Linked DNA regions of Homo sapiens. The protein of the gene in region 3 interacts with the protein of the main gene of each other region in a pairwise test. Each region holds a gene or a part of one and is shown on either strand. Other genes may lie near its edges. The genes, in order: BAG3, TTC23, NOTO, MEIS2, APOBEC1, CEP19 and LDLRAP1.

Evidence for each region.
Region 1: the proteins of NOTO (region 3) and BAG3 interact in binary tests that used the Homo sapiens proteins (3 or more experiments, as listed by UniProt).
Region 2: the proteins of NOTO (region 3) and TTC23 interact in binary tests that used the Homo sapiens proteins (3 or more experiments, as listed by UniProt).
Region 4: the proteins of NOTO (region 3) and MEIS2 interact in binary tests that used the Homo sapiens proteins (3 or more experiments, as listed by UniProt).
Region 5: the proteins of NOTO (region 3) and APOBEC1 interact in binary tests that used the Homo sapiens proteins (3 or more experiments, as listed by UniProt).
Region 6: the proteins of NOTO (region 3) and CEP19 interact in binary tests that used the Homo sapiens proteins (3 or more experiments, as listed by UniProt).
Region 7: the proteins of NOTO (region 3) and LDLRAP1 interact in binary tests that used the Homo sapiens proteins (3 or more experiments, as listed by UniProt).

The regions. Positions count from the first base shown.
Region 1 is NC_000010.11:119,671,880-119,675,379, forward strand, and holds part of BAG3 (BAG family molecular chaperone regulator 3), read left to right. Parts: intron 1-375; coding exon 376-777; intron 778-3,500. UniProt on the Homo sapiens protein: Co-chaperone and adapter protein that connects different classes of molecular chaperones including heat shock proteins 70 (HSP70s), e.g. HSPA1A/HSP70 or HSPA8/HSC70, and small heat shock proteins (sHSPs), e.g. HSPB8.
Region 2 is NC_000015.10:99,155,582-99,159,081, reverse strand, and holds part of TTC23 (tetratricopeptide repeat protein 23), read left to right. Parts: intron 1-2,784; coding exon 2,785-2,934; intron 2,935-3,500. UniProt on the Homo sapiens protein: Participates positively in the ciliary Hedgehog (Hh) signaling.
Region 3 is NC_000002.12:73,205,574-73,209,073, reverse strand, and holds part of NOTO (homeobox protein notochord), read right to left. Parts: intron 675-3,500; coding exon 460-674; intron 1-459. UniProt on the Homo sapiens protein: Transcription regulator acting downstream of both FOXA2 and Brachyury (T) during notochord development. Required for node morphogenesis.
Region 4 is NC_000015.10:36,888,704-36,891,626, forward strand, and holds the end of MEIS2 (homeobox protein Meis2), read right to left. Parts: 3' UTR 501-2,923; downstream 1-500. UniProt on the Homo sapiens protein: Involved in transcriptional regulation. Binds to HOX or PBX proteins to form dimers, or to a DNA-bound dimer of PBX and HOX proteins and thought to have a role in stabilization of the homeoprotein-DNA complex.
Region 5 is NC_000012.12:7,648,909-7,652,408, forward strand, and holds the end of APOBEC1 (C->U-editing enzyme APOBEC-1), read right to left. Parts: intron 2,234-3,500; coding exon 2,115-2,233; intron 789-2,114; coding exon 639-788; 3' UTR 492-638; downstream 1-491. UniProt on the Homo sapiens protein: Cytidine deaminase catalyzing the cytidine to uridine postranscriptional editing of a variety of mRNAs. Form complexes with cofactors that confer differential editing activity and selectivity.
Region 6 is NC_000003.12:196,705,777-196,709,250, forward strand, and holds the end of CEP19 (centrosomal protein of 19 kDa), read right to left. Parts: intron 2,952-3,474; 5' UTR 2,882-2,951; coding exon 2,752-2,881; intron 2,137-2,751; coding exon 1,775-2,136; 3' UTR 501-1,774; downstream 1-500. UniProt on the Homo sapiens protein: Required for ciliation. Recruits the RABL2B GTPase to the ciliary base to initiate ciliation.
Region 7 is NC_000001.11:25,550,106-25,553,605, forward strand, and holds part of LDLRAP1 (low density lipoprotein receptor adapter protein 1), read left to right. Parts: intron 1-3,500. UniProt on the Homo sapiens protein: Adapter protein (clathrin-associated sorting protein (CLASP)) required for efficient endocytosis of the LDL receptor (LDLR) in polarized cells such as hepatocytes and lymphocytes, but not in non-polarized cells (fibroblasts).

The DNA.
Region 1 (3,500 bases), on a different chromosome or scaffold from region 3:
CTAGGTTCAAGCAATTCCCCTGCCTCAGCCTCCTGAGTAGCTGGCACTACAGGCATGCGCCGCCACACCCAGCTAATTTTTGTATTTTTGGTAGAGATGGGGTTTCACCATGTTGGCCAGGCTGCTCTTGAACTCCTGACCTCAGGTGGTCCACTCACCTAGGCCTCCCAAAGTGCTGGGATTACAGGTGTGAGCCACCGCGCCCAGCCCCAGAGCTCTCAGTCTTAACCGCACATTTTGAAAATTGAAAATTACAGATAGGAGGTCTTACAATATGGATTGCCCTGAGGAGGTGCACAGCAGAAGGCGTGGTCAGGATGCCAAGCCAGGGGAGTCATTTGTGGGGTCATGCCCTCTACCCTGTGTCTCTTGCAGCGGTCCCAGTCTCCAGCTGCCTCTGACTGCTCATCCTCATCCTCCTCGGCCAGCCTGCCTTCCTCCGGCAGGAGCAGCCTGGGCAGTCACCAGCTCCCGCGGGGGTACATCTCCATTCCGGTGATACACGAGCAGAACGTTACCCGGCCAGCAGCCCAGCCCTCCTTCCACCAAGCCCAGAAGACGCACTACCCAGCGCAGCAGGGGGAGTACCAGACCCACCAGCCTGTGTACCACAAGATCCAGGGGGATGACTGGGAGCCCCGGCCCCTGCGGGCGGCATCCCCGTTCAGGTCATCTGTCCAGGGTGCATCGAGCCGGGAGGGCTCACCAGCCAGGAGCAGCACGCCACTCCACTCCCCCTCGCCCATCCGTGTGCACACCGTGGTCGACAGGCCTCAGGTACGGGAAGTTAGTCGTCAGCAGACTGGTTATGGTGGTATGTCTCCAGGGGTGCAGGAGCTCTGTGGGTGCCCTGGGTTCCCCCTTCATCCCTGCCTATTTAACATGCGTGTACCTACAGGCAAGTGAGATTCGAGAAATTGCTAGGTATTAACAGAAATGCAGGACAGTTGCTCAGGCTGTGAACCCTCCGCACTCTGCAGCTTTTGCTGGGCTGATCATTGTGCATTGCGGCTGACTTAGAGCAGACGAAACAGCTTGGCAGAACTTACATACCTGGGACCAGCTTCCTTAGTGTCCACCACACCCTTTCAGGGCTCTTCACACCCCCATCCACACCGCAGCCACAGCCTCACCTTGGGTGTAGGCAGTGTGTCACCTTCCACTCAGTTACCCACTCCACTCTGCAGGCCCATTCTGCTCATTCCCACCCCTGTGCCTTTGCCCATGCTGAACCCGCTCCCTGAAATGCCCGCACAGTATAGGTTCTCCCTGTCCTCTGAGGGACGAGCCAGTCTTGTCTCCTCCATGAAGCCTACTCATCCTTCTCATCTCATGATGCCTCATATGAGTCCCTTAATGAGAACTCCCAACTTGTATGAGTTCAACATGTCATTATTCGGGGCATTTCAGAAGTGTTCATTTTATCTCTTCAGCTTAGGGCTGAGCCTGACCACAGGGCCCATGTCTTAACCCCCCTCCTCCCTTTGTAATCAGGTACCATGTGGTCTGGCTGAGGCATCAGCCAGCTATGGCGGATTGGAAGCCGTGCTGGCCTGGGGAAGGTTGTAGGCAGGGGTCTGGTTATCTTCCAGTGGAGACACAAGGTGCAGGTTCCTGGAAGAGGATGTCATTTAGTTTAAGCAGCTCACAGCTTAGCAGCAGGACAGTCAGCAGCCCTGGGCCCCCTGTGGCTGCAACTTGAGCAGCTGAATGCTACAGTTTTTAAAAAGGAAAGCCCCCCGTGAACAAATGTGGGATATTCTTTCATTACAAATGGTCACACTGGCCAGGGCCCTGGAATAGAGCACCCTCATCTTAAAATGTTGTTTTATTTGGAAATAATTTCAATCTCATAGAAGAGTTGTGTGAATCATACAGAGCCCCACATATACTTCATCCAGTTCACTGTTTGTCAATATGTCTGCATTCGCCTTGTCATTTCTTCTCTCGTATATTATTGATGTGTTTTAACTGTTTGAAAATTAATTGCAGACATCATGTCCCTTTTCCCCTGAATAGCAAATATTTTCCTAAGAGGAAGACATTCTCGTTCATAACCATGGTAGACTTACCAGATTCAGGAAATTTCACATTCTTACAACATTATTATCCAGTACATTTTTGAATCTTTTTTATAGCAGTTTGCCCCCACTTCCAGGATGTCTTCCAGGACTGAAACAAGGATCATGAGCACCGCATTTAGATGCAACTTCTCTTCAGTCTTCCCTCAGCCTTTCTTTGCTTTCACGGCCTTGACGGTTTTGAAGAACACAGGCTGTGGAACACCCTCTCTAAAGTGTTTCTAAAGTCACTTCTTACACAGCCATTGCTGTTAGAACCTAGGAGGGGTGCGTGGTTGGGTTGTGAGTGGTAAGGGCCAAAGTTGCGAATGTCTGCATTGGCGAAAGAGATTTGATGGAAAAGGAGGTTGCTGGAGTGTAGACAGCTACATCGATCCATACTTGGGTTCAGCAATCCTAGGAGGGTCCCATTTGTAGAGAGAGGGATATTTTCTCCACATCATTCCCATGTGTTTCTCATCATCAGTGAAATGATATTTCATCCTGTTCTTACCATTAACCGTGTTTGTGGTGACCTCCCTTTTAGAGCTGATTCAAAGTTCCCTTTTGGGAGGCTTTCCAGGATTTCACCAAACTGAACGTTATAGTGGAATTGAGTGTTTTAAGCTGGGAATAGTTTAGAAATAATATAGTCCAGTTATTTCCCAGTTGATGAAATTAGGGTGAGATTTTAAAAGAAGTGTTAGATATTCACTTACATGAATAAGAGCCAAGATAAGGCCAAGCGCAGTGGCTCACGCCTGTAATCCTGTAATCCTAGCACTTTGGGAGGCCGAGGCGGGGGTATCACTTAAGGTCAGGAGTTCAAGACTAGCCTGGCCAACATGGTGAAACCCCATCTCTACTAAAAATACAAAAAAAAAAGTTAACCAGGCATGTTGGTGGGCGCCTGTAATCCCAGCTACTCGGGAGGCTGGGGTGGGAGGATTGCTTGAACTTGGGAGGCAGAGGTTGCAGTGAACTGAGATCACACCACTGCACACTCCAGCCTGGGTGACAGAGCGAGGCTCCGTCTCAAAAACAAAAACAAAAACAAAAAGCGTCAAGATATTTTTGCTTTGAGCATAGCTCATTAAAAAATATATGGCTTACTAGGCGTGGTGGCTCACACCTATAATCCTAGCACTTTGGGAGGCCGAGGTGGGCAGATTGCTTGAGCTTAGAAATTCAAGACCAGCCTGGGCAGCATGGTGAAACCCTGTCTCTACAAAAAAATAGAAAAATTAGCCAGGCATGATGGTATGTGCCTGTAGTTGCAACTAATCATGAAGCTAAGGTGAGAGGATCACTTGAGGCCAGAAGGTTGAGGCTGCATTGAGCTGTGATAGCCCCGCTGCACTCCAGCCTGGGCAACAGAGTGAGACCCTGTCCCCCACAAAAATCTATATATCTATATGGCTGTAGTTTATAGTCACAGGA
Region 2 (3,500 bases), on a different chromosome or scaffold from region 3:
CTGGCTCTTTTCATTCTAGGGCCACTGCCAGCCCATCCAATGCCCTTATCATAATAGAAAAAGCTGCCCCTTCCTCAGGTAGATACCGCCCATGTTGGAGAGGACCATAGGCTGGATTTCAGCCCTCCCCATGCTCCTGCCAGGCACCCTTGTGTGTGGCACCACCTGCCCAGCCAAACATGGCAGTCTCATGCTGTTCTCACCATTTGGTTGCAAACCTCTCACTGTGGGTTCTAGCAGGTGTTGGCCAACAAGGGCCGGGCCCAGGGACAGTCCCGGAGCCAAGAATGGGGCTGTGCTCAGGCCATCCCAGGTGTTCCCACAGCACATGGCCATGGGCACTGTGGAACATGATATTTGAGGGATGAAATGCCTTTTAAGGTAAAATGTAAGTGAAGGTCACTCTGCCACAGGTTAAGCTACTCCGTGAGGGTTTGTCTTCTAGTTGTGCCACTCTTTTGCTCAAGAATCTTCTGTGACTTCCTCAGCCTGGCCACTCACTGGCCCTCAACAGGCCATGTGTTCCTCCTGTGCTCCCAGTGGCCCATACCCTCTTCTCATCCCACCTAAGTCCTCTTTACTCTTCACTCCTCTCTCTTAAGCTTTTCCTAGCAGAGGTTGATACTATCTCAGTTTCCTAGAAACCCGTGCCATTTAACTTCCTTCACATCTCCCCGTTTCCGCAGTCAGGCTGTAGGCGGCATCCAAAGCTTTATCTGGGAAAGGGAGTCTCCCCGGGTCTTCTCCCCATCACTGGCTCCTCTAAGTCTGACAGTGATATTTTCCCACAGAAATATCACCAAACCCAGCACTCTCAGCAGTCCAAGTCCTTGCTCTCAGAACTTGGGAGATGTGATGGGCTTTACCCTCAGGCAAGTCTAGATTTAAATTCTAGTCCCTCATGTACCTCAGTGGGGCCTCACTGCTGAGTTACACAATCACTCTGCCTCTACAGAGATTCCTCTTTCACCTGAGAAATTTATTTCTGCCTCATCAGCACCTGTAATGTGGTTCCCCTACCCCGGCCCTATCCCCTAACTTGTATTATTGCCAACAAAAGGATTAAACGCCCTCCTTGTCCTTCTGTTTGTGGAGCACTTTTGGGACCCCTTTGGGGCTGTGTCATGAGGAAGCTCCCATGGTCCCTGCTGTATTTGCCAGTTAAATTCAGCATCCATGCTCTGCAGCTGATGTCGTGCCTTCATGTGGAAGATCGTGGAAGAATTTCTGGAGAAAGTATGGAGGATTGACATACTTTAACAGGGTTTCCCCCTGCATATTTTGGTGTCTGAAGAAGCTAATATCAGGAAATACTATGTCCTGACCAATTCATAATTTTTATTCCATGTTAGTATAAATAAATTGGATAAACCAAACAAAATGTCATGTCATGTTGGAATGTTTACTTTCAGTTTCCTAAACGATTTCCTATGAGAATAGCCAAGCCTGGAGTGTGTTCAGGATGTTCTATACATAGATAATTTGCCCAGGAATGCTATATTTTCACTTCTGTAAGAATAGCATTGTGGACAGAGGGAGAAAAGCATGGGACTAAAATGTATGAAAATTAGACTGGGCATTGTGGCTCGCGCCTGTAATCCCAGCACTTTGGGATGCCAAGGTGGGTGGATCACTTGAGGTCAGGAGTTCAAGACCAGTCTGGCCAACATGGTGAAACCCTGTCTCTACTAAAAATACAAAAATTAGCTGGGTATGGTGGTGGGCGCCTGCAATCCCAGCTACTTGGGAGGATGAGGCAGGAGAATCGCTTGAACCTGGGAGGCAGAGGTTGCAGAGAGCTGAGATCATGCCACTGCACTCCAGGCTGGTAGACAAAGAGAGACTCTGTCTAAAAAAAAAAAAAAAAAAACCTCCAGATTTCCACCTGCTGTTGTAAAATGGAAGATCTGCTGAGACGGTGAGACGGATTTAAAAAAAAAAAAAAAAAAAGGTATGAAGATCACTGGCTGGATTCAGATCCTAGCACCACCACAGCTGAGCCCTCTGACTCTGAGCAAGTTTCTTAACTGCCGTGCCTGTTTCCTCCTCTGCCTAATGAGGATTAAAATTTTACCCATCTAAAGAAGACAGCAAAAATTAAATGAGACCCACACAATTGTGTGTGTTCAGCACAATTAGTGACATGTGAGGACTGATCCATGTCAGCTTTTGTTCTTACTACTCAACTGAAATGGATTCCTGTAATGGCTGAGTGGGTTTATTTTGCCAGGTGTCCTCTCTCTTCATAGTTTACACCTTTCCTCACATTCGTGTTGTTTCCTGACTCTTGTTCAACCAGAGGTGATATGATTTGGCTGTGTCCCCACCCAAATCTCGTCTTGAATTATAGTTCCTATAATACCCATGTGTCATGGTAGGGACCCTGTGGGAGGTGATTGAACCATGGGTGCGGTTACCCCCATGCCGTTCTTGCGATAGTGACTGAATTCTCACAAGATCTGATGGTTTTATAAGGGGCTTTGCCCCCTTTGCTCAGCACTTATCTCTCCTGCTGCCCTATGAAAGAGGTGCCCTCTGCCATGATTGTAAGTTTTCTGAGGCCTCCCCACCCATGTGGAACTGTGAGTCAATTAAACTTCTTGGCTTTATAAATTACCCAGTCTCAGGTATCTCTTCATAGCAGCATGAGAATGGACTAATACAAGAGGAGAACAGGCTCAGCTCGTGAGACTACCACACCCATGTGAAAATGTTACAAGTTGCGTAATGATCCTAATCAGCCTTTGAGCTTGTTAACCAGATAGCTTTTTGTTCCTTTCACAGAGAGCAACCTCGATCCTGAGAGAGTCCCTGGAAGCCAAAGTGGAAGCATTTGGCGATTTCAGTCCCGAGGTGGCAGAGACATACCGGCTCCTGGGAGGAGCAGACCTGGCGCAGGGGAACCACAGTGGGGCCCGCAAGAAACTGAAGAAGGTAAAGCTGGAACCAGTACTAACACGAGACTAGGCTCTCCCTCCCCTCTCCAAGGTCAATTTCTCTCCCTTGTGGTGGTTCTTTTAAATGAAACTTTAGAAGTGGCTTGTTTAGATAGGATGACATCACTTTTGTGGTAGATCTAACCTGATACTTTTTGGGTAAAAGACATAGTAAGCCTCTTAGACATACATATTTTTTAAATGAATTATCAGTTTTTACTATGCAAATATTTTTAATTTTTTACGTAGTACAATTGATCAGTCCTTTATGTTTGCGGTGCTCTCTCTATACTGAGTTTATAGAGGAATTCTCTTACACTTTCTTCAATTGTCATTCTTCTTTAAATTTGGAGTTTATTTGTGTGGATGGCATGAGGAATGGATCTAATCTTACCTTTTTTCCAAATGGCCACCCAGTTGTCCAGCACCATTTAATTAGAGAGCCCATCTATGCTCCAGTGACTTCAGATAACACCTTCATCATATACTGATTTTCCTTATGGACTTAAGTCTATTTCTAGATTTCTCTTCTCTTCCACTAGTCTTTCTGTTTATTCATGTGTC
Region 3 (3,500 bases):
CCTCCTAAGTAGCTGGGATTATAGGCACCCAGCTGATTTTTTTGTATTTTTAGTAGAGACAGGGTTTCACTATGTTGGCTGGGCTGGTCTTGAACTCCTGACCTTGTGATCTGCCCACCTCAGCCTCCCAAAGTGCTGGGATTAGAGGCGTGAGCCACCGCACCTGGCCACATCTACTTAATTTTACTGGCAGGTCCTTATTTAGCATGGAAATCCTTTATTATCAATTTTTAGACTAATAATCTAAGTTAACATTCCAAGTTGTTCACATTATGTGACTTCAAATGGGACTTTTTTTTTTCATTATATAGAGTGTGCAAAAAGTCAGGGCCTGTCCCCTCAACAGCCTGGCACAGGGAAGAGGGCCCATATCTTCCTCCCACCCTCCTTTTAGGGCCTTGCTGAGGTAGTGTTTGTCCCCAGGTGCAGCCCAGGCCCAATAGGAGTCCCTACTCCCACCTGGTTCTCTGTAAGTTTGAGCCGAGCTGCCAGCTGGGCTCTCTTCTTCCCCACCAGATTGTGCTGTTTTGCAAACACTTTCTCCAACTCTTCCAGCTGCTCCAAGTTAAACATAGTTCGGACTCTCTTTTGCTGTCTCTCAGTGTCCTGTAGGTCCTCCGTTGGGGCCCAGTCTGGGAAGGCCCAGAGTCCTGAGCAGTGAGCCAGCTCCAACCCTAAAGAGCAACCAGCAGCAGGGGAGGTTATCCAGCAGCAGGGGAGGTTAGCCAGAAGCCCCCTGCACTCCCATCTGGGCAAAATGAGAAGGCACACACAGCTCTGCTACCTTGCCTTCCCCTTGGCCAGGTAACAGTGCAAGAAGACAGTGGAAAGAGACTGTGCAGAAATAACAGGAAACAAACAAATGGGAAAGAAGGGACAATGCAATGAGACTGTCTGCCACCACTACTCTCTAGCCAAGTGGCTTCACTTCTGGCCCCTAAGAGGAGTTGCCAAACCTCCCTTCTCTTTGCCTTCCTTTCCTCTCCTTGACTGCTTCTGGCAACGCCATGGAATGGGCAGAGAAGAGACCCCCAGGGGTTCACCCTTTTAATTCACTGAACAAATATTATACTTTTTGAATGTCTACTGTGTGTCATGCATGGTTTCAGGACAAAACAGAAAATCTCTGTCGTTATGGAGCTTACATCTTAGAAATGAGGTCAGAAGAGATAGAAGTCAGAAGAGAGGGTTGAGCTGAGGATACAAATTTGGGAGTCATCACTGAGCACGTTGGCTCATGCCTGTAATTCCAGCACTTTGGGAGGCTGAAGGGGGCGGATCGCTTGAGATCAGGAGTTCAAGACCAGCCTGGCCAACATGGTGAAACCCCGTCTCTACTAAAAATACAAAAATTAGCCAGGCATGGTGGCACATGCCTGTAATCCCAGCTACTCAGGAGGCTGAGGCAGGAGAACTGCTTGAGTCCGGGAAGCAGAGGTTGCAGTGAGCCAAGATAGAGCCCACTCTACTCCATCCTGGGTGACAGTGCAAGACTCTGTCTCAATTAAAAAAAAAATTGGGAGTCATCAGCTTATATAGATGGTATTTTAAGCCACGGGAATAAATGAGACCAAGCTGTGGGCCAGTGGAGATGCATCAACCAAGAGCAGTTCCTAAGTCAAATCTTGATGGGGATGAGGGAGTGAGCCATTGGGCTATCTGGGGGTATAGTATTCTAGGCAGAAGAATGGCAAGCATAATGCTAAGGCCACTCAGCCCCCACTAGCCTTGGGGAGTCCTCAGGGCTGGCAGACAGACTGCCCCAACAAAGGGAGTGTATCTGGGGTCCCGGCTGCTTAGGACTCCAACCACTGGGCCCACTAGGCTTACACTGTGCCTGCCAAGGTAGACCAAAAGATCAGGAAAAGCCCATCAGACATACAGCCTGGTGTATCTAGTCAGCCTTGTTTCAGAATCAGAAATTGACCTTTGGAGAAGAAAGTAGGCTGTACTGTGTGTTCCTTAAGAGCTCTAGTTGAGGCCGGGCATGGTGGCTTATACCTGTAATCCCAGCACTTTGGGAGGCTGAGGCAGGCGGATAGCCTGAAGTCAGGAGTTCAAGACCAGCCTGGCCAACTTGGCGAAACCCCGTCTCTACTAAAAATACAAAAATTAGCCAGATGTGGTGGTGGGCACCTGTAATCCCAGCTACTCAGGAGGCTGAGGCAGGAGAATCGCTTGAACCTGGAAGGCGGAAGTTGCAGTGAGCCAAGGTTGTGCCACTGTATTCCAGCCTGGGTGATAGAGTGAGACTCTGTCTTAAAAAAAAAAAAAAAAAAAAAAAAAGCTCTAGTTGGAATCCTAGCTCTGCCACCAATTACCAGCCAGAGGACCTTGGGCAAGACAATGTACTTCTGTGAGCCTTGATTTCCTCACATGTAAAATGGTGATAATAATCCCTACTTCCAGAGATGTCAGGATTTTAACATGGTGCTGTCTAGGCACAGTGGCTCATGCCTATAATCCCAGCACTTTGAGAGACTGAGATGGGCCCATCGCTTGAGCCCAGGAGTTTGAGACCACCCTGGGCAACATGGTAAAACCCTATCTCTACAAAAAATACAAAAATTAGTCAGGTGTGGTGGTGCACAACTGTAGACCCCGCTGCTTGGGAGACTGAAGCAGGAGGATCACTTGAGCTCGGGAGGCAGAGGTTGTAGTGAGCCAAGCCGAGATCACTCCTTGCCAATAGAGTAAGACCCCGTCTCAACAACAACAACTACCACAACAACAAAAACAAAAGCATATGATGCTTACAGGGTGCTTAGCACTGTGCCAGGCACAGAGCAAGAAGAAAGTCAATGGTTATTATAAAAATTAAAACAGAAGTGATAATCCAATGGGGAAGAGGGATTATTTCCAGATCTGGGAAAAATTAAGCTGGATCCATACCCAATACCTTGCACTAAAAAAAATCTAAATGGAGGAAATATTTAAATGTAAAAAGGTAAACCCACAAAAATTTAGAAAAAAATGGGGAAGTTATTTTATGACTTCACAGTGAGGAAGTTCTTTCCAAGTATCATATAAGATGTGGGGCCAGGCACAGTGGCTCATGCCTGTAATCCCAGCAGTTTGGGAGGCTGAGGCAGGAGGATCACTTGAGCCCAGGAGTTCAAGATCAGCCTGGGTAACATTGTGAGATTCCATCTCTACAAAATAAATGTTTTAAATTAGTCGAGTATGGTAGCGCATGCCTGTGGTCCCTGCTACTCGGGAGGCTGAGACAGGCATTGTGAGATTCCATCTCTACAAAAAAAAATGTTTTAAATTAGTTGAGTATGGTAGCGCATGCCTGTGGTCCCTGCTACTCAGGAAGCTAAGGAGGAGTGCTTAAGCCTGGAACATTGAGGCTGCAGTGAGCCGTGATCGCACCACTGCACTCCAGCATGAGTGACAGAGAACCTGTCTCAAAAAAGAAAAAAAAAAGGATTTGTAAAAACACATCAAACATAAAAATTAAAATTTTTTCTATGTAACAAAAGAATACCGCCATAATC
Region 4 (2,923 bases), on a different chromosome or scaffold from region 3:
CGGACACCGGACTTTCTAACTGAGTGGCAACTTGTAGCGGAGGTCCAGGCTCCTTATCAAATTGCTGGCCTGCTAGCTAATGGAGAACTTGTGGAGGATCCCTGTCCAGTCCCTTTGAAGGAAGGTCCCTCCTTTGACAGCTGCTAGAGATATTAGCCACATTTCCCTTCCCAAATCTGCTCCGGGTTAACAGGCCCGCGGGGGCGGGAGGGGGTGAGGAGGCAGGAGGATCCTGGTGGACTCTAACGAGGGTGAGAGCTGAGGGGCGTGAGGGGTGCTGACCTAGGGGGTGGAAGAGAGGAGGGGTGGACGGAAGACACAGACTTTCCTGGTCTTTTCTCTCTTTTTCGTTTAAAATGTGGCTTCTTGCTCAATTCCCAACCCTTAACAGATGGCGACTGCAGTTCTCTCAGAATTTCTTAAAGAAAGGGAAACCTTTGGAATTTATTTCTGCTTTTGCTTTTTCATATAAATAAAAAAGTGTTTTTATATTACTCTTGTTTTGGAGAACATAAGCAATTTTATTCAGACTACAGTATTTCCTTTAACACTATATGGTTGTCAAAACACCATTCCCAGTTTCTTTGCTTTTGACAGCTGAGTCTTTCTTAAATATACCCAAATCGGAACTCTTTACACTAAATAGTAAACCCGAGATAGGAGCAAGTGCCTTCCGGGGTGGTGTAAAAAAAGCATTATAAAAATTGGACAAATCTATCACTTCTCTGTGTTATCATGGGGTTGGGGGTGGGGGAGAGCAAGGTAATGCAAACAAATATTACAATTATCATTCATCTCCAAATATTTAAGAAGGTTAAAGTTAACATGATAGGACGTGGGTTTGACGAATAAACTAAGCATGAGATGACTTTATTCATTAAAACCAAGAGTTGAGAGCTCTGGTCTCTAAACTTCAATGAGATAACTTGATAATTGCATAAAACACATCCTAAACACGAGCCAATTGCCAAGGAAACCCTTCAGAATTTACTGAGTGGAAAGAAAAAAAGGTTCTTTTTCCCACCTGATGTGAGAGTTGATTTATAATGGGGAATTTTCATAGTTTACATAAAAGTATTTAAAGTAAAAATAGGCAAATATTTAAAATTTACAAAAAGACTTCATGTAAAATAGAATAGCAAAAATGAGAGGGAAGCTATCTCTCTTTCCCAAGTGGCACTGAATTTCTCTATTAAGTTAGTTTGTGTCAGAAGCATTATTTCTATGTTTAAACAGCAACACAACACTTAAACTGAAATGTATTTGTAAAAATTCTACCTGACTAAATATAACACAAAACAATAGAAGTGTATTTCCTCGTTCATTTATATAGAACCTCCATAAATGCTGTCTGAAATGGAAAGATGGAAGAGCCCCAAATAATAACTATGGATTTCTTCCAAGTTTAAGTTTGCAGAGATGATGAATAATTTCCTTAGCCGGTTGACATCACATATCTAGCCAAAGTATATGACATTATTCTTTCTAAACAAAGATTCAAAATTTAAGAGTTAAAAAATTCCAGGATAGTATATTTATTTGAAAATTGAGGGGACATGCCTCACCCTTTTTGCACACTTTAGCAGACATTGTTTGTGCAGTATCAATAAGCTAATGGTATAGATTTCCAGGAATGTTGCATAAAATTTTGAAAATGGCATTATACCGTCCATTTTGTTTTGTTTTGTTTTCAGAAAAAAGTTTAAGTTTAGTTATCAAATCATCACACTAGCATCCCTGCACATGGATGTGTCTGAAATAAAAATATACCACAATATAATTTATAAAATATTAATGATTAAGTAATCTTTTAAAGTCAGAATTTCAAACTCCATAGAAGTTGTTTACTTATCTATGAACACCCATATGTAAATTTTCATTTACATATCCAACAATATTGTAGTAAGACAGGCAGAGGAAAAACACAGGCAGATAAATTACCTTTGAGCACAGACATTATTTCTTATGTTGTAAAATTAACCCTGAAAAGTCCTTTATTCTGGCAGAGGATGCCCATGAAAAGCTTTATCTGAAAGTATATATTTTTTAACGTCATGCATCTAAAAAGGAGGTTGAGCATGTTCAAGGGGATCTTTCAACCTGGCTCATCATGTACACATAGTTTCGTACCTTTAGAAGTTTTCTGCTGGTGGAACTTATAGGTCAAATAGACATTGAAAGGCTATAGATGATTACCTTAAAAATTATTGATGAGTTTAAAATATACTCAACTGCTGGGGGGAAAAACCTACTTTTAACACTGTATAGAGTTGGCATTGTGCAGTCTTGTCCTAAAACCATTAAAAACGCAAAAGCCTAACAAAAAATCAAAAATGAAATATTTATTACCGCTTTTTGTGACTTAACACCTTTTTTTTTTTAACATAACGTCACAGTCCTCATACAAGTATTTTAATGTAAATTTGACAAAGCTTAAAGGTAACAGCATTTTCTTCTAGTGAGGAACACGTGCTGAGAAAAGAAGAATTCATGGACATACAATACCAATTCCACAGCAGATCTGATACTAGCAAAAACATTCTTTTTTTTTTCAATTGAGGTAAACACATAGAATATCTAACATGAAACAATTAATAGACCGAACTCTGTACGAAGTTTGTTACAGTATTCTCTTGCTCCTTTTTATCCCCCAAGCTTTGAGTTTCTGATAAAGTCCTAGTTATGGTTCAATGACCATTAATAACTTTTTTTTGTGTTGAGGAAAGCTGCCCAACTTAAGATTGTTTTGTCCACAACCAAGGCTCAGAACTCCTGGAAGAAGCTCCTGCTCTGTCTTTAAATCTTCATTGGCAAGCTCTTTGAAGAAGAGTCCCCCAAAAATAATAATAAGAATTGGCTTATGAAGCACGAACTATAAAGATCTGTTTGAAACTAAAGGACACATTTATGGAGGAACAAAGGC
Region 5 (3,500 bases), on a different chromosome or scaffold from region 3:
AGAAATAGGGTGTGATTCCAAGATGAAGTCATCAAAGTCGTGGAAATTTCCACCTTGGTCTCTCTTCGATCACTCGCTCTGGGCCAGGTATGGTGGCTCACACCGGTAATCCCAGCACTTTGGTAGGCCGAGGCTGGTGGATCACTTGAGTCCAGGACTTTGAGACCAGCCTGGGCAACACAGCAAAACTCCATCTCTACAGGAAATTTTTCAAAAGGTAAATTAATCTGTAGGAAGCCAACTGCCATGTCCTGAGGTTATTTAAGCAACCCTGTGGAGAGGCCTGTGTGGCAAGAAACTGAAACCTTCTACCAGCCACTAGCACAAACTTGCCAGCCATCTGAGCCTGCCACCTGGGAAGCACATTCTCCAGCCTCAGTCAAGCCCTCAAATGATTGCAGCGCTGGCTGCCATCTTGACTACAACCTCGTGGGGGACCTGAGACAGGAACACACAGATAAGCTGCTTCTAAATTCCTTACCCACAGAAACTGCCAGAGGTAATACATATTTATTGTTGGTTTAAGCTACAGAGTTTTGGGGTACCTTGTGAACATTTCTAGATTCTAAATGGCATTCACTCTTTAGTGGGTCATCATTGCTTGTTCTTGAATCAGTACACACACGGAATCATCCTATTCATCTCCAAGCCACAGAAGGATGTATCAGCCCTGTAGCTAAAAGGATGTGTGGCGGAATCGTTTGGTAATGGCAGTTTTGAAGATGAAGTCTGAAAAATGTAAGATGATTTTGCCATCTTCTTGAAATCTTTAAACAGGGTGGAAGACTCTGGAATAAAAAAGGATTATATTTAATCCTTAGGATGAATATTTTAATTAATAATATTATCACCACAAACATTTAAAAATGTCAGTTGGAAGACGATTTAACTATTTCTTCTTTTTTTTTTTTCCCAGACAGGGTCTGGTTCTGGACTCACTGCATTCACCCAGGCTGGAGCGCAGTGGTGCAATCACAGCTCACTGCAGCCTCAACCTCCTAGGCTCAAACAATTCTCCCACCTCAGCCTCCCAAGTAGCTGGGACTACAGGCACGCACCACCACACCCAGCTAATTTTTTTGTGTTTTTGTTGAGATGTGGTTTCGCCATGTTGCCCAGGCTGGTCTCCAACTTCTGGGCTCAAGCCATCCACTCCCCTCTGCCTCCCAAAGTGCTAGGATTACAAGCATGAGCCACTGCACCCAGCCTGAACCACTTTCAAGAGAATCCAATGGAACACGTACATTCTCTTCAATAAGATTACACACACTAATAAGAGAAAGGAGAATATCTGAAATACAGTAGAGCCAATATGTGTTGTAGTAACAAGAACAATAATAATGATAAAGCCAGACATGATGACACACGCCTGTAGTTCTAGCTACCCAGAAGGCTGAGGTCAGAGGATTGCTTGAGGCTAGGAATTCGGAGTTTGAGGCTGTGGGTTGCTGTGATGGTGCCTGTGAATAGCCGCTACACCCCAGCCTAGGCAACACAGCGAGACCCTGTGGCTTAAAAGATAATGATAATAAAATAAGAATAAAAATGATAAAATGTAATTAATATGGGGACCACCCATATCTTAGATCGGTTTACCCAAATTCCCTTCTCCACTTACCTCCCACAAACACACTTCTTGTTCTTAGGCTTAGATGTTGTTTGTTTGCTTGTTTGTTTACTTTGTTTGATACATAATTTTCTTTTTTATAGAGAGGGGGTCTCATTATGTTGGCCAGGCTGGTCTCAGACTCCTGGTCTCAAGCAATCCTCCCATCTTGGCCTTCCAAAGTGCTTGGATTACAGGCATGAGCCACTGTACCCAGCTGTGTTTTAGAAACAGGATCTTGTTATACCACGCAGGCTGGAGCATATTGGCGTGATCATAGCTCACTGCAGCTTGCAACGCCTAGACTCAAGCTTCCTGCGTAGCTGGGACTACAAGTGTGCACCACCATACCTGGCTCTGAGATTTTCTTAAGAGGAGCTAGCTAGTTAAATAACTAAATCTCAATATAAATGTCAAAAAGAAGATATGAGTCAAATTTTCTCAGGAAAGACCTTTGAAGAAGGATGCTTCTTTTTGCATCAACATTTGTGTCCCTAAAGTGACTTACTAGAATTATGCAGTGCAGCTCCAGTGCGTACAACATCATCCACAGAGGTGGGTATTGTGGCCAGTGAGCTTCATCCCCAGGTGGGTAGTTGACAAAATTCCTCCAGCAGTGATAATACTCTAAGGAAACACAAATCTTGGCTCATTCAACAAGCACAATGGTAAATTACTTAAGAAGATCCCCAACCTAGCTTCCCGTATAGAAAGCCTGTAGTCTCTAGTCTAGTTGCTGCTGGACATTAGACCCCCTAAAAAGAATAAAGCAGTTCATTTAAAGATGGCTGAGAGGCAAGACTAGAGAAAAGAGTTGTTGGCTGGGTGCGGTGGCTCACGCCTGTAATCCCAGCACTTTGGGAGGCCGAGGGGGGTGGATCACAGGTCAGGAGATCGAGACCATCCTGCCTAACACAGTGAAACCCCGTCTCTACTAAAAATACAAAAAATTAGCCGGGCGTGGTGGTGGGCGCCTGTAGTCCCAGCTACTGGGGAGGCTGAGGCAGGAGAATGGCGTGAACCCCAGGTGGAGCTTGCAGTGAGTCGAGATTGCACCACTGCACTCCAGCCTGGGCGAAAGAGCAAGACTCCGTCTCAAAAAAAAAAAAAAAAAAGAGTTGTTGTTTGTTTTTGTTTTTGTTTTTTGATACAGGGTTTCGCTCTGTCACCTAGGCCAGTGTGCAGTGGTCCAATCATAGCTCACTGCAGCCTTGAACTTCTGGGCTCAGGAGATCTTCCTACCTCAGCCTTTAAAGGTGTATGCTGCCATGCCTGTCTGATTTTTTTATTTTATTTTTTATTTTATTTTATTTTATTTTATCTTGAGACGGAGTCTCGCTCTGTCGCCCAGGCTGGAGTGCAGTGGCGCGATCTCGGCTCACTGCAAGCTCCGCCTCCCGGGTTCACGCCATTCTCCTGCCTCAGCCTCCCGAGTAGCTGGGACTACAGGCGCCCGCCACCACGCCTGGCTAATTTTTTTGTATTTTTTAGTAGAGACGGGGTTTCACCGTGTTAGCCAGGATGGTCTCCATCTCCTGATCTCATGATCCGCCCACCTCGGCCTCCCAAAGTGCTGGGATTACAGGCGTGAGCCACCGCACCTGGCCGGATTTTTAAATTTTTTTTAGAGATGGGGTCTCACTATGTTGCCCAGGCTGATCTTGAACCCCTGGCTTCAAGTGATCCTCCTGCCTTGGCCTCCCAAAGTTCTGGGATTATAGGCATGAGCCACCATGCGTAGCCAGGAGTTGTATTTTTGTAACTTTCCTTGTCATGAATTTCAGACCTAGTCCTTTATGACATTATTTTGGACTTTTACTTCTGAGACTTCCAGCCTGGGCTAACCAATCTTCTGGCCTAAAAACAGCTACTATCACCACAGTCTGTTGTAAAC
Region 6 (3,474 bases), on a different chromosome or scaffold from region 3:
GCACAGTGGCTCACATCTGTAATCCTAGCACTTTGGTAGGCTGAGGTGGGTGGATCACTTGAGCCCAGGAGTTCCAGACAAGCCTAGGCAACATGGTGAAACCCTGTCTCTACAAAAAATACAAAAATTAGCCAGGTGTGGTGGTGGGCACCTGTACTCACAGCTACTTGGGAGGCTGAGAGGGGAGGCTCACTTGAGCCCAGGAGGTTGAGGCTTTGGTGAGCTGTGATCATGCCACTGCACTCCAGCCTGGGTGACAGAGTGAGACCCTGTCTCAAATAAAAAATAAACTACCTATATCTATACAATAAAGAATAAAGGAATACTATGTAGATATGGAAAGATCTCTAATTCAGAAAATTATTTGGCTCCCTTTGGCTACTGTATGTATGAGATCTGACTATTTCAAAACTCTGGTGATATCACTACAAGAATGAGCTCCCTTTTAATGAAGTGCTTAATGGTAAGGAGAGTGGAAGTGAACAGGTAGAAACACTGAGTAATTATTTTCAGTTTTATTTAATAAACATCAATTTCCTTGTAGAAAACATAGAATTTCTACCAACTAAACAATATTGTAATAAGGATAAATGTATCAAATCACAGATAATGTTGTTAAACGAAGATGCTGTCTTGCAGATCCATTCATGAACAGGCCTAAACTGGCAGTGCCTATTGTTCATTTATTATGGGTGGATTTCCCATTTTACAAACAAACCTTTTATTTATGGGAAGAGGTTCAGCGTTTCGCAATGTCTTTAGTATGTATTTCCCGATACCGGAGGGGCAGAATTCCCCCTCTGTCCATCAAGTGACATCTGCTTGCAGCTGTAGGGAATTTTGCAGGGTACTCTTTTCCAGAGATAAATAATATAAAGATATAACACATAAGAGGTAATTCCCTGGTAACCATATATGTCCCCCAATCTTGTCTTGTCAAACTATAATTTGCTTATGGTTCCTCAAAAAAAAAATTGTTTCTTGTCCCTTTACTACTTCCCCTCTCCTTCTTTTCAGTTGCTCTTATCAGGAATCCTACACAAGCATCTACCTAAACACTACTATTTCAAGGGCCAGGCCACCTCCTATCTCTTTACTAAAGGACAAAGTCTTCCCTTACTATTCTACTCTACAGTAATATATGCTCTGGCCTTCTTTAGCCTTTATCATGCATTTGGCACTAATGTTTGTGTTGCTTAATACTGCTAATTAGCTTTTCACAGGTTTTGACATCTTCCAGTCAGATTGTAAGCTTTTTTTTTTTTTTTTTTTTGAGATGGAGTTTTGCTCATCGCCCAGGCTGGAGTACAATGGCGCGATCTCGGCTCACTGCAACCTCAGCCTCCCAGGTTCAAGCGAATCTCCTGCCTCAGCCTCCTGAGTAGCCGGGATTACAGGCACCCGCCACCACGCCTGGCTAATTTTTGTATTTTTAGTAGAGGCGAGGTTTCACCATGTTGGCTAGGCTGGTCTCGAACTCCTGACCTTAGGTGATCCACCCGCCTCAGCCTCCCAAAGTGCTGGGATTACAGGCGTGAGCCACCGCACCCGGCATGATTGTAAGCTCCTTAAAGGCAGATTCCTTTATTCTGTTTTTCCCATACTCCTCATGCACCTACATAGTAGATGCTTTAAATGTCCTGGTTTTGAAAAGTAACATGGTCAATCCCCTATAACCCAACATATTTAGTATTCTTTACAGCTTCTTCCAGAACCAGTCTGGTAATAAACATGGATATTCTGCTAGCCCAATGCATGTTTTGAGTGTTTGGTATCAGAACTCATCAGCTGACTCTGTGTCCCAGCCACAGGACTGCAGTTGATCGTCCTGTGGAAATTCAACCTCAATGTCATAAACAAAATTTGGATCATCCTTCTTCTTCTGATTTTTCTCAAAAAGTTCATCCATGATGCTCTTTCTTTTGGCAAGCTCCTTGTCATCTAGTTTGTTCAGGTCTTCCTCAGGATCAATGGTTGTTTCCCGTTGAATTTGTTCCATTGTTTCTGCCAGACTCTGCCCCGACAAGTAACCTCGTAAAAAACTGAATAGCTTCTCTAGCTGCCTCAGGGATACTTGTTCTAGGTAACTCTTGTGTCGCGGATTATTCTTTAATTGTTCAGCAGCTCTGGTGCAATCTGGGAGAGAGAAGAAAACTATATACCACATACGTACCACGTACATCATATACGCCATAAACTACTGCAACAGCCAAAACAGAACAAAAACTCTGAACCCTGAAAATATTATCTCCATTATAGTCAAGTAGCTAAATGGCTTGATTGGAATGAATTACTTTGTAGAACCATTCCTTTATATTGAGCTTTCAGTGTGGTGGGAGAAGGACAGATACAGTTTTGACTTCTTTAACTTAAAAATCACTTTGTAGAGATATTAAACACTTTCAACTGGAGAATATGTCTGAGAAGAAAAGTGATATTATAGCTTTTAGATAGCAGTAGTGGTATTAATAAAATATTAAGACTACAAATAAAAAACATTTGGAATGAGAGAAGGGAATTAATATTATTGAATAATGCTATATCATTTAACCTAGGCAGCAATCCCAAAAGGATTATTAATTATCAGATTGGAAAAAAACACTACAATTCCCTTTTATAGATTAGGAAACTGAAGCTCACTGAGAGTAAGTAATTCATCCAGTGTCACACATCCAGTCCCTGACAGAGTCATGATGTGAACCTGTATTTAGAGAATATTTAAGACAGGAGGCAAGATAAGACATGAGGTACCTGAAAACTTTGAAAAGTTTCGAACTGGCATAATGCGCTGGCGAATTTTCCCCTTGATTTCACTCTCATAGATTAAGATAATAGCTGGAGGCTGAAACCTAATCCCACATTTCTTGGCAGTGCACATCATTCCCATGTACATGTCCGGGTAAGTCAGAGGAAATCTGATGAATATGTGTAAGTTGCATAATGACTTCCTGCTAAAGGGAAAAAACAACTAGGTGTTGGATAAATGTCATTCATTCCCCTCGCCCCTTTGCCCCAGAAGATCTGGTTCTAGTCCGGCTCTGGCCACACACGCTCAGCCTGTGAAACTCATTTTTTTTAAAATTAAAATACGGACTGCTTCATGAATTTGTGTGTCATCCTTGCGCAGGGGCCATGCTGATCCTCTCTGTATCATTCCAATTGTGGGGTATGTGCGCGGGAACGACCACAAAGCTCAGTTATTTTGAGAACTGCCCTGAAAGTTCAGCTTGGCCCTGGGTTAGTTTCAACCTGTTGGATCCCTAAGATCTGGTTTTTTCAAGGATATAGACTTGTTCATATGTGAATCTGGGGATGCAATCCAGTTTGAACCTCTTAGTGTACTGCACTCTTACTGAAGATCGAATATGAACCCCTAAGTCAGCCCAATAGCTGACCTATAGGGTCTTTACTATTTATCAATTAAGAAAGGGCATATCGAGCATCCTCGGTATCAAGGTACTATGATAAGGTAAG
Region 7 (3,500 bases), on a different chromosome or scaffold from region 3:
ATTTACAGTCAAGAAAGGCACCAACAGCCCGCCCACAGGAGGGATGAGGCCCCACTGGAAGGTGTACTGAGCAACTGCGATGGGCCTGCCTCTCTGCTAAATTCTATAAACTTATCCAAGGGTCACAACAGCCCCCAGGAGTCAGAGCTGTTGTTTCCCCCATTTTAAAGATGAAAAACTGAGGTTCAGGGAGGGTAATGAGCTCACTCAAGATGACTCAGACATGAAGCATTGGAGCTGATATCTTAGGATTAAGGCCTTGCTGTTAACCACGAGGCTATATTGCCTCAAAGGAGGCTTCCTGGAAGAGGTTGGATGTGTGGGGTTTGATCAAGTGAAGAAAGGGCATTTAGGATAGAGGGAACTACTTGAGCAAAGGCAAAGAAGTTAGACAGTAAATATTACATTATTAGGAAGAAGCTCTGCATGGTTGGAGCTTCTTGGGGTAGGGGGTATGTAGGGATATTGTGGGAGAAGAGACGGGGAAACTTAAAATTCCCTCACAGTCACTGGTCATTGTGGGGATTGTCTATAGTGGACTGGGTGGGGTGAGGAGAGTCCCTCTGACTTGCCATGTTACCTTGCACAGGTCCCATCCCTGTCTGGGCTTCAGTTGTATCATCAAGTGAGGGGCTTGAGCTGAGGGCCTAAGGCTGATGAGTGGCAACCAGTCTGTAAGGACGTGGTTAGAGGAGGGGAAGGGTCAGGCCAGGGAAGGAGGAATGCAGAAAAATGCTGAACATTTCAGGGGTCAGGGAGGACTAGGGAATGTTTTGACAGCAGAGAGATCACCAGTGACCTTGGCAGGCTTTGGTTCTTTGGAATGGAGGGAGCGGAAGTGACTTTGGAAAGGGGCCAGGAAAGGGCTGAACCAGAGGAAATGGGAGAATGGGGACATGAAAATGGGGGCTGGAGAGGGAGAGTGGAGAATGTTTGCCAGGGGTAGGGATGGATAATGAGATGTTCAAACCTTGATCAATTAGTATTGCTTGCCTGGGGCCTTGTGCTGAGAAAGGATCAGAGGGAAGTAGAGCTGCAATTGATTATCAATGTCTGCCAAGGGTGCGGGTCATAGGCACAGTAGCACTTCTTTCCATTGCTGTCCTTGCTTAGATGGGTCTCAGGTTGAAATTGGTGGCCTGGGTATCCTAGCCTGCAGAGGGGAAGCCTTAGGTATTAGGAATACCTAATTCCAGGTGAGAAGAAATGCCTCCGCCTCCAAAAACCTGATCTTTTGCTAGAATTAAGGTAGTTTGCTGCATGATAAAGTAGTATGGTCTCATGGTCAGGAGCTTGGGCTTTAGAGTCAGTCCTTTGAGTCTCAGTTTCCTCTCTGTAAAATGGGAATGAGAGAATGCCTGCTTGCAAGGTGGCTGTGAGTGTTAGAGGTGATGGTAATAGCTATGGCTTTATTATTGTTGCATCTTTGTTATATGAAAGCGCTGTTTTTCCCTGATGATGGTGCTGTTATTCTGAACTTGAGAGCAGGGTCTGTGTCTGAGTTGCTCCAGGGCCCCATCACTCAACCCAGGACTGGGGACATCTCAGGGACTTTCACATTCTTTTGGAGGATCAAATGGAATAGGCTTGTGGTTGATGGGACAGAGGATAAGGTCATGTTGGGCTTTGGGGTCATCTCAGTGGAGACCTGGCCTCATGTTGGGGTGGAGGCCCAGGGATGAGATCTAGGGCTGGAGGGTCACTGGGCCTGGGGCCAGGGCTGGGGATGGGATGGGGTTGTCCTCGTCATTTCTTCCTTGAGCGAGTATTGAGCGCTACCTGCATGCCAGGTTCTAGATGACAGTCAGTAAGTCCCTGCTCACCTGATCTCAAGACATGAGGGGAACTGGGTACATCTGTAAGTTCCTGTATAACCCTCCCCAGCCCTGACACCCGCACCCTCTTTCAGATGAAGAAATGGCCTCAGAGAGGGACAGTGGCTTGCTCAAGGCAAATCCAGAGAAATGTGGGTGTACAAGGCTCCTTCTGGCTGTGGAGAGGGGGACCAGAGCCCCTGGAGGCCCAGGGCTCTAGGATAGGAGCTGAGAGGGGCAGCAGGGATCCAGACTGGGTAGGGGACCTGGTGATGCCACCTGGACCCAGACTTCTGCTCTTGACAGAGCCGGAACTCCAGAACCAAGCTGAGCCTTGTAGTAGGGGCCCACATCCCTGCCAGAGCCTCAGCTGCCCTGGAACTAGCAATACCCAAACTTTCTTCCTGTGGCTTTTCAATCAGAGCCAGTGAGGAAGGCCTCAGGAGGAGGTAGGGAGGGCCCAGGACATCTCCCAGCCCCTCCCTGGGGGATGGTCTAGGGAAGCTGGCCCTGGCTACCTCTCGTGGCCCCTGGAAGCTGATTCCTGGCTGGATCCTGCTCTGTCCTCAACAAGATTGTGTGTGAGGCTGAAGAGCAGTTTTCTTTCTCATCTGTAAAATGGTGCAGTCATAACAAACACCTCCTACAAGCACAGCATCTGTGAGGGTTTCCTCTCTGTAAAATGGGACAGAGAGGTAGGGGACAGGAAGGGGCTCTGGCAGGTGGAAGTGTGAGGTGTTCATTCATCTTTCTTCATGTCCTCCTTCCGAGGAGCCGGGGATGGTCAGAAACTGTCAGTGCAGCCTGCTTTTGCCCTCATGCCCATTTGCCTCCACGGGGCCCTCACCTACGTGGTGGGGCGCTCTTTCCACGTGTCCCTCCTGGTCCATTTGCCCACCCAGTGAGGCAGGCTCATCCCCTTATTTCCTGACATTTGTGTGGTTGGTGCTTTTAGAGAACTCTCCTTGTGGACTCTGTTCTGCACCATTGTCACAGCCCAGAGAGGGGGGAATGTTAGTCCCAAAGAGGAGAGGGGACTTCCCTAGGACCATCCAGGGGGTGGGAAGCAGAGTGGGTCTCGAACCTTCTCCGATTTGGGAAATCGCCTTCTCCTCTCCCCACCCACCCTTACCCTTCCCTGCTCTCCCTGGGCTACTGTCTCCTGCCCAGCCTCCCACATGCCCCTGTTGGTCTCTACGGATGCGCACAGGGAGGAAAGCAGTGCAGGCTGGGGCCATGGGAACCGCTCAGGGTTGAAGTCCGACTCATTGTATGTGGCCTTCATCTCATGACTTTGCCTCCCTGAGCCTCAGTCTCCTAATCTGTAGAATCATTGTCTCACAGGATTGCACTAAGGATTCAGTAAGAAATGGTATGATTTGCCCTCAGCAAGTGGTAGCATTGAAGTAAAGAGGGCTCAGGGCTTGAAAATAGGGCTCGAAACTTGGCTCTTGCACTTCCTGGCTCTCTGGACTTGGTTATGTGATTGAGCCTCCATGGCCTCCGTGTCTTTGTCTGTCAATGGGTTTGATTAAAGCGTTGACCTCATAGGTTCTTAGGAGGATTAATGAGAACATTTTATGTAAAGCTGCTTACATGGAGCCTTGGTATGTGCCGGAAAGCTTTAGCCCTTTATTAAAAGTGACAGCAGACCCAGCACGGTGGCTCATGCCTGTAATCCCAGCA